Linked DNA regions of Homo sapiens: region 1 is linked to region 2. Evidence: fine-mapped expression QTL. Tissue or cell type: whole blood. Region 2 holds a variant in brackets; the other region holds the start of a gene. All regions are shown on one strand. Distances are from middle to middle.

Region 1 (8,199 bases), 570 kb after region 2:
CCCCAAAATACACCTTCTTTGACCTCTTTCTAACGCCATTTCAATCTATATTTTCCACACTGCTGCCCATCTGGCTGGGGTTCTTCTTTCGACCCTTTCAAAAAACTTCTGACAGTTATCAACTACTAGTAAAACAGAAACTGTTCATTAGTTAAAATGGGTCCTAAGTGAGTAGCTGTCAGACTGAAACTATAGGCAATTTACCCTCGACCTCAAATGAAGAAATACTGAGAAGCTCCACTATTCGACTCAGGATGAAGTTCATCAGTCATTTGAAGAGGAAGGGAAAGGAATCGCATCCAAGCTTCAACTAGGGAAAGAAGAGAACGAAAAATGTGCTGCAGATGTGACAAAAGAACACCAGACTCAGTCTATCACATCGCAGAGAAGGACAAAGATTTCTTTCTAAAATGTACCCTAGGTGTCAGCTGAGACACTCCTGCTTGGTGACCTAATTACATTTGGCTCAAATGCAAGTTCTATAGCTTTCCCCCAAACTCCCCACAATTCCTTCAGTACTCAGAACTTACTTCCACGAGTTTCCCTCTGTCTCTAAGCTTCCCTGCAAACAGGAACGATTCATCTTTTCTTCCACATCAACTTGTTTCCACAAAAATATTCGCCCCCATCTTCTTGGTTTGTGCTGTACAATATGGTAGCCACTAGCCACACATAGCTGTTTAAACTTAAGTTTAACTAATTGGAATTAAATGAAGCTCACAATTCAATTCCACATTCTTAGTCATCGTATTTTGAGTGCTTGATAGCCATATGTGGCTAGTGACTACCTCACTGAAACCACAGATTAGAATACATCCATTATCTTAGGGAATTCTGTTAGACAGCTGTACCAGCATGTCACAAACTGATGAGAGCTTACTGAATATCTGTGGACTTATGGAGAGAGATCACATTTTAATTTTTTATCAGAATATTCACTTTTATCTAAGCATGTTTAATCACATGCCACTTTTGAGAAATGTACTATCTACCTATAGGGATGTACTAATGCACAGGTTTCCATTTGGAGTCTTTTAGGAAGCCAAGTTAAATCACCACATAGATGAAGTTTAATTGTTTCAAGTGGGCTTAGAGCATGAATTCTTCCAAGAGAGGAAATAAGGCTTTTCTCCCTGACAAAGAAGTGAATGTCTTCTCCAAAAATATGTTCAGTGAAGTTTTCCTGGGCTGGGTGCAGTGGTTCATGCCTGTAATCCCAGCACTTTGGGAAGCCCAGGCGGGTGGATCGCCTGAGGTCAGGAGTTCCATACCAGCCTGACCAATATGGTGAAACCCCATCTTTGCTAAAAGTACAAAAATTAGCTGGGCTTGGTGATGGGCACCTATAATCCCAGTCATTTGGGATGCTGAGGCAGGAGAATCACTTGAACCTGGGAGATGGAGGCTGCATAGAGCTGAGATCACACCACTGTACTCCAGCCTGGGCAACAGAGCCAGACTCATCTCAAAAGAGAAAAAAAAAAAGTGAAGTTTTCCTCTGTGGGAAAAAGAAAGATATGAGTGAGCTTGCTTGTTCCCTAGAACCTCTAGATGGAAATACCTAAGAAGAAAAGAGGCAGATTTTGAAGCAATTACTCTTCTTTGGATTGCTGGTTAGTTTCGCTACTAAAAATTGCTGAACATAAGGTGAGAGAGAGGAAGGAGATGTGATCCCTGACCTGAAGTAGCTTAGTGAAATATAGGTAGCCAACCAGAAAATAGAGACTTTAAGTGCCGAGCCTGGGGTATGTGAGCACAATGGAAGGCATCTCTGCTGTCAGAGAGTAGAATAAGGAAAAGCCTCCAAAGCAATGCTGTAAACCAAACCAAGCTGTCATTGTGGCAAGATCCTGCAGGACAGAAACCAGATGGCTGTTCTTCAACTTTTTATCACCTCCTGTCCCCTTCCCTACCACACCTACACCCATATACCCAGATTCTTGCACTTAATCACATTCAATATTTATTGAATGAACTAATTAAAAGATGAATAAACACACCCAAACAAGGAATGAGAAAAAGGGCATTGCAAGCAGAGGAATGACATGAAAAAAGGCATGGAGGTGTGACCTTGAATGGGGTTGTTCCAGGGAGTACCAACATGTGGTGTTGATGGGCACAGATTTGACTGGATGGAGTATTAGTGCTGGAGGCAAGAGTGATATGAAGGTGTACGACTCAGAAAGATTTTCCTGCTATACTGAAAGTCTTGGTGAATGTGGGGCTCAATTGTAATATTTCATCATAAGTGCAGCAACATCAAGTTTGCATTATCAAAAAAGTACTCTGATAATACATATACTTAAATTAATATTTTCTAATGAAGTCTCAATTTAATCATGATCAGATCTTAGAATATTTTAACTTCATTCCTAACTCTCTTTAATCTCGTTTGTTATTGTCTGGTATTTTTGTTCCTACTTATATTAAAAATGAAATAAAGTTACTATTAATTTTATTTTAAACATTATTATAACTAATACAGTCAACACATTTCTTTATTGTAACACATCTTCTGGGATTATTTTATTTTTTGACAAAGGACACGCTTAAGCAGTAATTTCAATGAGTCTATGGATAGCAATCTTACTACGTTCTCATAACTTTAACATATCTTTTTGTCATACTCACCCTTAATGGTTGGTTAGCTGGGTACAGAATTCCAGGTTGAAAGTTGTTTTCCTTTGCACTTTAAAGCTAGTGTTCCATACTACCGAGCCATAAAAAGGAATGAAATAATGGCATTCACAGCAACCTGGATGGAATTGGAGACTATTATTCTAAGTGAAGTAACTCAGGAATGGAAAACCAAACACTGATGTTTTCAGTCATATGTGGGAGTTATGAGGATGCAAAGGCACAAGAACGATCCACTGGACTTTGGGGACTCGGGCGAAAGGGTGGGGGGTGGCAGGAGATAAAAGGCTACACGTTGGGTATAGTATACACCGCTTGGATGATGGGTGCCCCAAAATCTCAGAAATCACCGCTAAAGAACTTATCATGTAACCAAACACCACCTGTTCCCCAAAAACCTATTGAAATTAAAAATAATAAATAAATAAATAAAGCTACTATTCGAAAGCTGCCTGGCTTCCACTTTATCTCTCCATTATGGTGCCATCCCCATCCTTGTCACTTTGAAGGTGATCATTGCTGATTTGGGGCTTTTAGGATTCTCACTTTGACCATTTCATGTATGAGGTGTTTATATGTAGACTTTTTTTTTTTAAATAAACTTACTATTCAGTGGACCTTTTTGATTCAGACAATTTTCTGGTCCTTTACATTCTTACATCTCAAAGGTTTATGTGAGTCCTATCAATGCCTTAATTTGGAGCTAGTCAATGTGAGGGTTCAGTAAGAGACCTCTTAAAAGTCCTATGAACATCTTGTTTTCTAATCTGTTCTACTCTCTTCTCTCTCATCTCAAGTCTTTAAATCTGGATAATGGCATGGGGATAGCAGACTAAGGGTTGGGATGGCTGCTGGAAACACAGGAGATCTATCTAATCACCCATTTTGTTAAAACTTTTCTGTCTTACATCTGGACCAGGACTTCTGAAATTGAAAGGCTTGGAGTTAACATCTTTGTACGCCATTGTGCCATGAAGCAATGATGATTCCCATCCAGCTGCCTAAAGAGAAAGAGGTTTGTGTCAAACATTCTGATGGGAGAGATTCTTTAAAATGTTCTTTGTGAACCATGAAAGCATTACTTTCTCATGTCCTACCATGAATTTACACAACTGATGCAAAAATCTAATAACAAAGGTTGAGTAGCATTTTCCAAACAACAGTGAGCTGGGAGCAAGGAAGCTGGCTTCTGATATCAGCTTCACCCACAACTGTCTGTGCATTAAACTAGTCACAATGTTTCTCTAGGCCTCAATTTCCTCACCAGTAGAACAAAAGAGTAAGATTTGATAACTACTATGGTCCCTTCCAGACTTAAAGTTTCCAGACATAAAGGTCCTTTACAGACTTAAATCTGTAGTTTAAAGTTGAGTCATCTCTGGCACCTACAACCTAACCCTTTGCCATCTATACTGGAAAAGAAAATCTTGTTACTCTTTTCAAATAGCCTATTTTTCAGTAGAACTGTATTTTGGCAAACACCTATATTTGGAGTCAGAAGGACAAGGTTCAGTGTCCAGGTCCACTGCTGACCAGTGTTGTGAACCTCGGAAGGTTTCTAATCTCTCTTAAGGTTGGGTTTCTTGAGTGTGTAATGGGGATATGTGTCCTATGCTGCTCACAAGGATTTTGTTGGCATCTTATTTGATGACTTCACTGAAAACCCGTTATTGTAACACACTCTGTTGATGTAAGCTATTTTGACATGATCATCCATGTTCTGCGGGAGAAGCTCAAATAGTAGATCTCTGAGGAAACTCACGCATGTTGAAGGAGTGGAGTCGGTGCTTTAGGAAGGAAAATCTGTGTGTGGGTCTCAAGTCTCACCGCATGGGTCATAACCTATTCCTGACCCTGACAGAAAATCCTTCTAGAAATAAAAGAGAAATAAAGGAAATCCACCATACCAAGGCATAAAAAGACAGCCATGAAAAAGTAACATAAGGGGAGAGGAAGATGGGCTTATAACAGATTACAGGATGTTGTCAGTTTTAATAACGTGATGTGAAGAAAAGATTCTGTTTGCACACAGGGAGAGGTTCTTTTCCTGGCTAGTCAAAGCACACCTTACGTACATTCTGAAGCCGTCTCTTATATGATTCATTTTTTTCACTGTAGATAAGACTTTTATGGATGGATTGTTTTTCTCAAATAATATTATCGCTTTGTGACTAAAGTAAAGATTATTAATTCCTGAGGCAAGAAGATATAAAAGCTCCAGAAACGTTGACTGGGACCACTGGAGACACTGAAGAAGGCAGGGGCCCTTAGAGTCTTGGTTGCCAAACAGGTAATCCTCCTCGCGGTTGATGATGGGGGACTTTCTTTAAACATCTGTTTTCCTCTGTCAGCTATTAGCCAGGCCAGAAATGACAAATTGTATTTCTAGTGAGGCTTGTCAGGCTTTCTGTTGCTGTGTTGTTTGATTTAAATTATTTACCTTCTTTTCTTCCTTCACTGCAAAGAGCATTGGCTTTGGTGTCAAGCTGTTGGGTTAAATCTTGGCTCTGCAGTCTGGTAGCTGGGAAACTTTAGAAAAGTTACTCAATCATAAGTGTCAGTGTCTTCATTTGTAACATGCATTCATGAGATCTACAGTGCAGGTTTTTTGTTTTTGTTTCTGTTTTTGTTTTTGTTTTTGTTTTTTTATGGAGTCTTGCTCTGTCTCCCAGGCTGGAGAGCAATGGTGCAATCTTGGCTCACTGCAACTTCTGCCTCCCAGGTTCAAGTGATTCTCCTGCCTCAGCCTCCTGAGTAGCTGTGATTACAGGCACTTGCCACCACGCCCAGCTAATTTTTGTATTTTTTAATAGAGACAGGGTTGTGCCATGTTGGCCAGGCTGGTCTTGAACTCCTGACCTCAGGTGATCCACCTGCCTCAGCCTCTCAAAGTGCTGGGATTTCAGCCATGAGCCACCACACCCGGCCCAGTGCAGCTTACTTATGAACATGACATGCAGACATTCAATGAATATCAGTTCACTAAAAATTATTCACAGATTAGTAAAAAAGATGCTGCCTCTCCCTTCCCCCAGATGGTCACCTTGACAGAGAAATTCTGTTTGCGTTTTAAAGGGGTTTGAGGACATTGAAAATACACTATTACTTTTGGAAGGAAAGTTTAGCAAAGTGCAAGGTTCACGCAATGATTTAAAAAGAAGTAAGGGGTGGGGAAGGTCACATCCACACTCTCCAAGCTTTGTCTCATTCTCAGTTAATGTTGCCTTAAAGTGTTCAGATGGACCCCAGAATTGATTTTCCAGAAAAGTCATCATTTACATTATTCTCTTTAAGCAATCCATTATTTGAGAGTTAGATTGTATATTCAGATTTTTTAATCATAAAGTATGATTAAATGTGAATTCAATGAATTAACTCATTTTAAGAATTATTTGGGAGGGAAATCCAGAACTCAGTTTCATACTTATGTTAAAACAAAGCCCAGACAGATGAAAATAGAACAGTGATAAATATTTTAACCTTATGTGACAGTAATGGCCAGTCTTTTGATATAAATTTAAAAATTATTTTTAAAAACATAAAAAATAACAATATTTTTGAAAATTTCAGAATGGCAAAAATTATAATAAGTAAGAGAAAAATACAAACTGAGAAATACTATTAGTAACACGTGAAAGGCAATAAACATACAAAAAAGATCTCACAAATAAACATACAAAAAAGATCTCACAAACAATGAAATAGAAAAATGTGCAAAACTGTAAAATGAAAATTCACCAAATACTAAAAGCAAATCATTATATAAAAAGATGTTCAACTTCATTAGTAATTATAAAATATTTTAAAACACTAAGGTTCTTCTTTAATATACCAAAATTAGCCAAAAACTTGACAAAATTAAGCATTCTCTGGGAGCTTAGGGAACCAATCCTTTTAGTGCCCTATTAATGAGGTAAATATCACAGCCCATACATTTTAACAAAGGGTATTAAAATGACAATGTGCATGTTGTGTGATGCCACAACCCTATATATGAGAATTTATACTAAAGAAAAAATAAAAAATGCATGAAAGTTATGTGAGTGCAAGACAATGTATTACAATTAATCTGTTTCTGAGAAACAAAACCAGGCTATAGGACTATATGATCTTATTTTTATAAAATTGTACACAGAGAGAGGTGCATAGAAAGATATCTGTAGGCTACTCACCAAATTATCTCCTGGAGATGGGATTTACTTCTTATTTTCTAGTTTTGCATTGATTTTCTAATAGCTCATGTGTTGTTTGCTAATGGGGAAAAGATAAAGCCATGTTCTTTATTTTTAAAAATGATGTCAACTAAGTGTAAAGGAAAGAGTGCTGATGGAGTCAGATCTGCTTATAGCTGGTGTCCATGAACAAATGACTTCATACTTACTGACCTCAGGTTTTCTCATCTGTAAAATGTGGGTATTGGACACTGTGCTCACGTTTAATTTTAACATTTAAAAATTCAATGTCGGAGCCATTCTATTGGATTTTCTTGACAACAGAATGCCCATATCCGTCTTACCTGTGAGGAAGCTTGCCTTGGGCGCCCTCTGCTGGCCCTCCTGAAGCTAACAGGGGCGAGTGCTCGGTGGTTTACAAATTGCCTCCATGCAGACTATGAAACTGTTCAGCCTGCTATAGTTAGATCTCTGGCACTGGCCCAGGAGGTCTTGCAGGTAAGAACAAAATCTCTTAAAATTTTCTAACCTGTACATCTAACTTGAGATTCCCTTCATTATAAAGTCTGGATTTAGCCAGGAAAATATTGTATTATTTTCCTCCATATGTATTAGTTGGCATCTAGATTCCTGGGTCCTTCTCACCTGTGCAAATGTGTTCAGATTTGCAGATCAAGGAGAACCCAGGAGTTTCAAAGAAGCGCTAGTAAGGTCTCTGAGATCCTTGCACTAGCTACATCCTCAGGGTAGGAGGAAGATGGCTTCCAGAAGCATGCGGCTGCTCCTATTGCTGAGCTGCCTGGCCAAAACAGGAGTCCTGGGTGGTGAGTATCCATCACGTAGCTGGAACTGAGCCACAGCCAGTGTTCACACAGCCCATGTGAGACAGTCATCCATTTGCCCACAAAAACATTTAGGAACTGCAGGAAATAGGTTTTTAAACATGGAGATGAAAAACAAAGATAGGTACTAAAAAATTCAAGGGCTCTAGAATCCAACAAAACTCAATTCCATATGATTATAACCCATACTTAAATCATCAGTTAAGGGTAAGTTATAATATTAATTTGGCAAGTTTATTGTGAAGGGCAGAGATAATGTGTTTGAAACACCTGTTGCCTAGCAGATTGTCAATAAGTCATAGCCATAATTAGAATTCCCCAATGCTTATGCACTGGTTTATCATTTTGAGCATTATTAGGGATTCCAGTTTGCAAGGTACCTACAATCTAGTTAGAGAGATGGCGCTTATACATTTATAGATCACACATCAAGTGCAAAGTAACATGGCAACAAAGTGGGTAGCAATATTGTAGAATCCACCAATAGAGAAAGCAGGGGAGGAACAGTGTACGAGTGAGCTAAGAAGAAATGTCACAGAATACCAGAA
Region 2 (8,437 bases):
TTTGTTAAATGGGTATATTGCATACTGGTGGGGATTGGGCTTCTAGTTCACCCATTACCCAAATAATGAATATTGTACCTAATAGGTAGTTTTTCAACACTCACATCCTCTCCCCTTTGGGAAACCTCAGTGTCTATTATTTCCATCTTTATGTCCATGTGTACCAATTGTTTAGCTTCCACTTGTAGGTGAGAATATGCAGTATTTTATTTTCTGTTTCTGAGTTAATTCACTTAGAATAATGTTCTACACCTCCATCCATGTTGCTTCAAAGGACATGATTTCATTCTTTTTTATGGTGGTGTAGTATTACATGATGTGTATATATATCACATTTTCTTTATCCAATCAATTATTGATGGACCCATAGGTTAGACTTAGGTTGGTTCCGTGACTTTGCTATTGTCATGGTATTGTCCTATAATGATTTGTTTTCCTTTGGGTAGGTGTCCAGTTATGAATATTTCTGGGTCAAAGGGTAGTTCTGTTTTCAGTTCTTTGAGATATCTTCATACTGTTTTCCATAGAGCTTGAACTAATTTATATTCCCACCAATAGTGTATAAGCGTTCTCTCTTTGCTCTGCATCCAAGTCAACCTCTGTTTTTTTCTTTTTTCAACTTTTTAATAACAGCCATTCTGACTGATATAAGATGATATCTCATTGTGGTTTTAATGAGCATTTCTTTAATGATTAGTGATTCTGAGCATTTTTTCATGTGTTTGTTGGCTGCTTGCATTTTTTTTTTTTTTGAAAAATGTCTGTTCATGTCCTTTGCCCAGTTTTTAATGGGGTTGTTTCTTTTTCTCTTCTTGAATTCTTTGAGGTCCTTGTAGATTCTTGATATTAGTCCTTTGTCAGAGACATATTTTGCAATTCTGTTTTTTTTTTTTTCAAGCATGGCAAGAAAGATTTTATTCAGGACCAGAGCAATAGTTACAGGGACCACTGAAATGTTGTCTGACAGTGGGGAAGAGAGATTCTATGCTGGTCATTTTTAACAGCTTTCTTTTATTATTATTGTTATTATTATTATTATTATACTTTAAGTTCTAGGGTACATGTGCACAACGTGCAGATTTGTTACATATGTATACATGTGCCATGTTGTCGTGCTGCACCCATTAACTTGTCATTTACATTAGGTATATCTCCTAATGGTATCCCTCCCCCCTCCCCCTACCCAACGACAGCTCGTGGTGTGTGATGTTCCCCTTTCTGTGTCCAAGTGTTCTCATTGTTCAGTACCCACCTATGAGTAAGAACATGCCGTGTTTGGTTTTCTGTCCTTGCGATAGTTTGCTGAGAATGATGGTTTCCAGCTTCATCTATGTCCCTACAAAGGACATGAACTCATCCTTTTTTATGGCTGCATATTTGACAGCTTTCTTTTGCTGAGATTGTTTCAAGTGTGTTCTAGCTTTGGACGTTATGAGAAGAGTTGTTTTACAACATTTTTCTCTGATTATTTTTAAATCTAGGGTCTTTGTAGAACTGTTTCTTTCTCCACTATTTCTTCTAGTTCTCTGTAATGGTTATATGTATATATATATATGATACATATGTACTTATCTATCAGCTATATTCATCATATAGGTGATACATACATACGCTGTGAGTGCATTATTTTCCTTGGAATATTATTGTGGAGATTCTTTCAGGATGAGGAAGAACTGCACATTTGTTTCTATTAGGTATTGTGAACTGTTTTAAACTAAATTTATAGCTTGAGTTTTTGAGATTGTAATTTATGCAACAGCAGCATTTTCCCCATGCTTTGTTTAGCACCAACGAACACTTCCTTGCCGACACATGGAAGAAGGAGTGAGGTAGTGTGGGTTTACTTTTGGTTTATGCTTATTGTGAAATTATAGCTCTTTGGAGGTCTTGTTTCATAGGGGGAAAGTCTTCTATTATCACATGCATGTTGCTGGGGACTTGAGATTTTTTCCTTCTTCCATATCACTCCACAGAGACTGAAAAACTGAAGCTCAAATTCACTGCTTTCATGAATTCTCCAAGGGCCAAATGGAATTCAACATTTAGCTTTCTTTTCTGAGATCAAGACATCACTTAGATTTTGGTCTTGTAATTCCTTACCATCTTGTATGCTCTTTGTTGCTCCAAAATCTTCTTTTTCTTCTATCTTATGCAGAATTTCTAGTTGTTTTTATCAAGAATGTGGGTTTGAACAACTGAGCATATTATTTTATTGGAAAAGTGCAATTGCTTTTTACTACCGATTCCTAATTATCCAGAGGATCTAGAAAAAATGGATTTAACTCTTTGGCCAATTAAAACACAAATTCCAAAAATGGATTATCTGTTCTTATAAAGCTATAGTATATTAAAAGATATTTAATACATAAATAACAGTAAACAAAGTATCCTCTACTATGGTTTGAAAATTATTTAGAATCTTGCGATTGTCCTGGGTCTCTCTAGATGCTAATGATCACCAATGAGTTTGACAAATAGAGATGTTACAAGTGATTGGTTTAAATCTTTGATGCACCTTAAATGTATTTTAAAATGTGCCCCTAACTCTTTATTTTACCTGACTGTATTTCAGTGCATCAGTTTAAGGGTAGACATGAGATCATGGGTTTAAGTGAGGCTTCATCATACTAAGACAACGTGATCAGGTAAGTACTTGCCCCTCTACATGTCAGCATTCTCACCTGTAACATAGTACAAACAAGACTTTGTCTGAGTCCCTTGCAACATTTTGTGGAGCATCAAATACAATAAAGACCGTGGATATGCTTTGTAAACCTTGAGTTTCTACACATATGCAAATATAAGTACTGGTAAGATATAGAATGAACAAGGGAAATAGAATCCTATTTTTATGTTTCAATTTTATGGATTGCTGGAAAATTGAAGTGTATAGGAGTCTTCCTGTGTTGCTCACTAGAATGCCTTTGGCTGGGTTTACTGGTATTGCACGAAAACAGCTGTTAGCAAAGACAAGACTTAGGCACCCAACAAGACCTTTTATTTTCACATGACTGAGCCTCTGACTTCAATATGCGTTCCGTGTTTTTCCCAGAAGTTCTTTTGTGTTATGTACAATTACTCTGCTGAACAGATTGTATTTGTTTTTTTCTTTGTTTTTTTTTGTTTTTTTGTTTTGTTTTGTTTTGTTTTACTGTGAGACAGTGATGCCAATGCTTGTGTATTTAGGATGGGGGTCGCAGACTCTGTACTTCCAGGAGAAGCCCCCGGAAGGTCTTAGCTGGCTCCTGAGGGGGCACATTTGCTGTGCTCATTGCACTTTACCTGGTGTCATGAAGCATAAAGAGCACAAACGTGGACACCAAGAGTCTACATTAAAGTCCCACTCCTTTATGTTTGTAAATATGGGATATTGGGAAGTTGCTGCACCTTTTTTGCTCATTTTCTTCACTGAACAGCAGAAATAGAAAAATTTCTTCTTAATAGGGCTTAAGGGAGACTCAAATACAACACTGTATATGATGTTCTTTTGCAAATTGTAAAGCAAAGTACAAAGTTTCAAATATATTCATTATACGTATATATCTAGCTTTTTATTCCATTTGGTTCAAAAAATTTATGTGTTCCAAAAAATTATGGAGGTGATACATATCTAAGTAGAGGATTTGTCAGATATAAATATCATGATGTACTAACAAG[G/C]CTGGACAGCTTTTATTAACACATTGTCTGCAGCACAAAAAAACAATGCCTGGGCCTGAATAGGAACCATAAGAAAATATTTCTTAAATCAATGAAAGATTATTTAATAATTAAGAAAAACTGGCCAGGCGTGGTGGCTCATGCCTGTAGTCCCAGCACTTTGGGAGGCCGAGGCGGGCGGATCACGAGGTCAGCAGATTGAGACCATCCTGGCTAACACGGTGAAACCCCATCTCTACTAAAAATATAAATATTAAAAAAAAAAAACTAGTCAGGCGTGGTGGCGGGCGCCTGTAGTCCCAGCTACTCGGGACGCTCAGGCAGGAGAATGGCGTGAACCCGAGAGGCGGAGCTTGCAGTGAGCCGAGATCGCGCCACTGCACTCCAGCCTGGGCGATAGAGTGAGACTCCGTCGCAAAAAAAAAAAAAAAAGGCGAAGACAAGGGTGAGTTTAGAAGGTGAAATCTGTGCTGTATATACTGAGAAATTGCTTGGGATGACTCATTTGATTCTGAATATCTGCATTAGCCAGTGCAGGCTGGCGTAACTAAATGCCACAGACTGGATGGCATAAGCAGCAGAATTTCATTCTCTTACAGTTTTGGGGGCAGTGAAGTCCAAGATCATGAAGCTGGAAGGGTTTGGCGTCTGTTGGGGCCTCTTACCGGCTTGGGCTGCTTTTTCCTTATGTGACCTTTATACATGTGAGGTCGAGGGGAGAGACATCTGTCTCTTTCTTTCAGTATAAAGCCACCAGTCCTAGTAGACTGAGGTCCCACCCGTATGACCTAATTTGACCTTAAGTGCCTACTAAAGGCCCTGCCTGTCTTCAAAAACAGTCACATCAGGGATCAGAACTTTTATACATAAGATTTTTGCAGGGACACAATTCAATCCAAAGCAATATCTTATCAAGATAACGATATGTTTGGCTACGTCTCCACCCAAATCTCATCTTGAGCTGTAGTTCCCATAATCCCCACCTGACATGGGAGGGACCTGGTGGAAGGTGATTTTATCATGGGAGCAGTTACCTCCATGCTGTTCTCCTGATAGTAAGTGAGTTTTCATGAGATCTGATGGTTTTATAAGGGGCTTTTCCCTCCTTTTTCCCACCTCTCTTTGCTGCCGCCATGTGAAGAAGGACATATTTGCTTCCCCTTCTACCATGATTGTAAGTGTCCTGAGGCCTCCACAGCCATGCCGAACTGTGAGTCAATTCAACCTTTTTCCTTTATAAATGTCCCAGTCTTGGGTATGTCTTTATTAGCAGCTTGAGAAGAGACAAATACGGATAATATGATTGGTTAGACAATTTGAGAATCTTTATAATATTTTTCAAAAGAAACATAAATATTGTAATTTTTGTCAATAACTGTTTGGTGAGCAAGGAAGTTAATTTCTTTGAATGTGTTTTTGTACTTGTGAAATAGGGATTATAATTCGTGCATTGACTTAATGTTATTATAACAGTCAAAGAATGTATTGTGCACTAGTCCTTGCAAACCCAAGCAAAGCCCTTGGGTTACACATGTGAGCTGTCATCATTCAGTATTCCCCTTGCCATGGGAGGGGAAAGAAGCATGTATGATCTGCACTGCGATGCACACATGGGCCCCCTGGAGATGTGGAGCAGGTGATGGATCTTCAGTCTCCATTAGAACCTTATTATTGGACATTTAGAAAAAGGCAGAAAAAGTTAGCAGCTCCAGAACTGCTGGATCGTGATTGTGCTTCTGTTTTGTAAATATCTCCATTGACTTCAAGTTACTGCCCACTCGGACCTACGATTCCAATCCCCCTCCCCATTCACCTACAGAATAATGAGACTGTGATTTAAACTAGAAAGCCAGTAGCTTTTCTTCTTTATTTTCTTTGAGTGATAGCCACAAAGGGGAGAGTTTAAGAAATAAGTCGTTGCTTGCATAAAGACTGCAGAGAAAAACCTTCATTTGTTTATTTTTTTCCTTTCTTCTATTTTCTATTCTAAAGCTGCATGTGGTCTCCTCCTAAAAGGAGTTTACTGGTAGCATGTTAAACATGTCTAAGACATTTCTGAATATTTGAATATAAATTATTTACATAACTTGTTAATTTATTTGCTTATGTAAAAGATATGGTGGGTCAATTGGGTAAATAGCTAGCACACTGCAGACTACCTTGGCCTTTTTTTCTACCTGAATGCCTTGTGGCAATGAAAGAGTTGTGAAAAGGAGCAAAGAAGAAAAAGCAATTTATAGTCAAATTTTGAGAATTTTTAAAAGAGGAGGAAGAGGAAAACAATTTGACAGAGAGAGGAGGAAGGGAGGAAAGTAAGAAGAAAATAAAGGATCATATGTTAAAATCAGAAAGAAATATACAAAAACCTAAAGATGACATTGGAATCAATGAAAGCAAATATACTAGGGTCAGATTTTTGCCTCTCATCTCTAATCTAACACAGTCTATGTCAAATAGTTACAGCATCATAACTTCTGTCCCCTTTATTCAGAATTAGCAAAGTCTGAACTGACTTACCTGAACAGGAAGAACTAGTTGAGTAATTTCTTTTAGTAGCATGGTAGTGGAAAATTTTAGAATCATATAAACTTAGGTTGAAAATTCTGCTCCTTTACTCTCCCGCCCTGTGACTTCAGGTAAGCTTGTTGATCTTTCCAACTTCAGTTTCTTCTTCTGTAAAATAGAGATAGTAGGACCTGCCTTATATATTAAATATACATATAAACCATAGAGATGCCTCTGAAATTAGCATAAGCTCCTTTGGAAATTGAAAATGGCAATGTTTGGGATAACTTTCACCGTTTATGTGTTTGCTGAAGGTAAAAATATCAGTTAAAAATATCTTTCACTGAAACAAGAGGAAATTTACTCTTAAGTAGGAATACTTTACGCATCGAGCAGAGATAAAGAGAATTTACATGTGTCTCTAGGTTCCTTGGCTTCCAATAGTATCTTTATTTGTGCAAGTTTTGTGTTTTGTAAAAGCTAGAAGGTCAATAATCAAAATGGCATTTGATTGCTTATTCATTATTTGGTGGTGCAAACATGTAGAACATTTTCTGTTTCTATTTCTGGCAAACGGAAGGGATGGTAAAACTAGACGCAATATTGGATGAACATTAGCGGCCCAGGACTGGCCTCAGTCATTGAAACTTTGATTAAGAACTCTGGGTATGATGGATAATTTTTGTGTCAAATTCACTTAGACATGAGGTGCCCAGACTAAACATGGGTCCTGGTTATGGCTGTGAGGCTGTTTCTGTATGAGATTAGCGTTTGAATCAGCAGACTGAGTAAAGCAGGTGGCCCTCCACCATGTGAATGGGCATTATCCGATTCATTGAGACCCGAATAGAACAGAAAGCACAGGAAGGGTGACTTCACCCTCTGCCTAACTGCTTGAGCTGACACATCAGCCCCCTGTGCTGTTCTTGACTGGGTCTTATACCATCGATACTTTGGTTCTCTCAACTACATCACTGCCTTTCCTGGGTCTCCAGCTGCAGATGGCAGATTGTGAGACTTTCAGCCCCCATAATCACATGAGCCAATTTCTTATAATAAACTCCCTCTCTCTCCTTCTTTCCCTCTCTCTCTGTCTATATATATATATATACACACACACACACGTATTAAATATATATGTGTATATATATACACACACACACACACATGCGCGCACACGCACACACATACTCTTGATTCTGTTTCTATAAAGAACCCTGATTAATACAAAGGGCAATTTCAAGGATTTGATTATATATATAAAATATTAAATCACTTATACATATAACATTGTGTGTGTGTGTGTGTCTCCTTTTACTGAGTTACCTCCTGATTTTTATGACTTTAGGATGAGAACCAGGGCTATTTTTCTAATAACACAGATACCTTTCCTGAGAAAAATCATCCTAGCCATCCACAATGGCAAAGATCACATATGTGTATGCATGTTCATGTGGTCACATATGTGTGCATGCATGTATACATGTCTGCATGACCACATGTGTGTATGCATGTGTATTAGTCAGGGTTCTCTAGAGGGACAGAACTGATAGAATAGATGTACATATAAAAGGGGGTTTATTAAAGAGAATCAACTCACATGATTACAAGATAAATTCCCATGATAGGCCATCTGCACGTTGAGGAGCAAGGAAGCCAGTGGTGCATCAGTCTGAGTCCCAAAACCTCGAAAGTTGGGAAGTAAACAATGCAGTCTTCAGTCTGTGGCCAAAGGCCCGAGAGCCCCTGAAAAATCACTGGTGTAAGTCCAAGAGTCTAAAAGCTGAAGAATTTGGAGTCTGATGTTCGAGACCAGGATGCTTCCAGCACAGGAGAAAGATGAAAGCCAGAAGACTCAGCAAGTCTGTTCTTCCATCTTCTTCTGCCTGCTTTATTCTAGCTGTGCTGACAGCTGATTAGATGGTGCCCACCCAGATAGAAGGAGGGTCTGCCTCTCCCAATCCACTGACTTAAATGTTAATCTCCTTTGGCAACACCCTCACAGATATGCCCAGGAACAATACTTTGCATCCTTCAATCCAATCAGGTTGACACTCAACATCAGCTATCACAGCATATATGTATATATGTTTGTTTAAAAACACAGCAAGATATAGGAATAAGCTTTGTACACTAGGACTATTTGCAAAGTTATTGTGTGAATATAAATAACTAATATATATCTTAAAATTTTCTGTAGAGGTAGTTGTATACACAGGCTGTAAAAGTCAGCATTTTTCCTCATATTATTCCAGAACACATAAAAAAGCAACAA

The links. PIP is the estimated chance that this variant, and not a neighbour inherited with it, causes the effect.
Region 1: it holds the start of REG4, and the variant in region 2 is fine-mapped to the expression of REG4 in whole blood (TOPMed, PIP above 0.99).

What each region holds. Positions count from the first base shown.
Region 1 is chr1:119,808,137-119,816,335 of GRCh38, reverse strand. REG4 (regenerating family member 4) reads left to right here and starts at 4,876. Exons shown (of 6, transcript NM_032044.4): 1 at 4,876-4,927; 2 at 7,473-7,633. The coding sequence starts at 7,567.
Region 2 is chr1:120,374,687-120,383,123 of GRCh38, reverse strand. No RefSeq gene overlaps it. Among named protein-coding and RNA genes, the nearest start is that of NBPF8, 36 kb to the left of the region's middle. The variant G/C (reference allele first, on the strand shown) is at 3,658.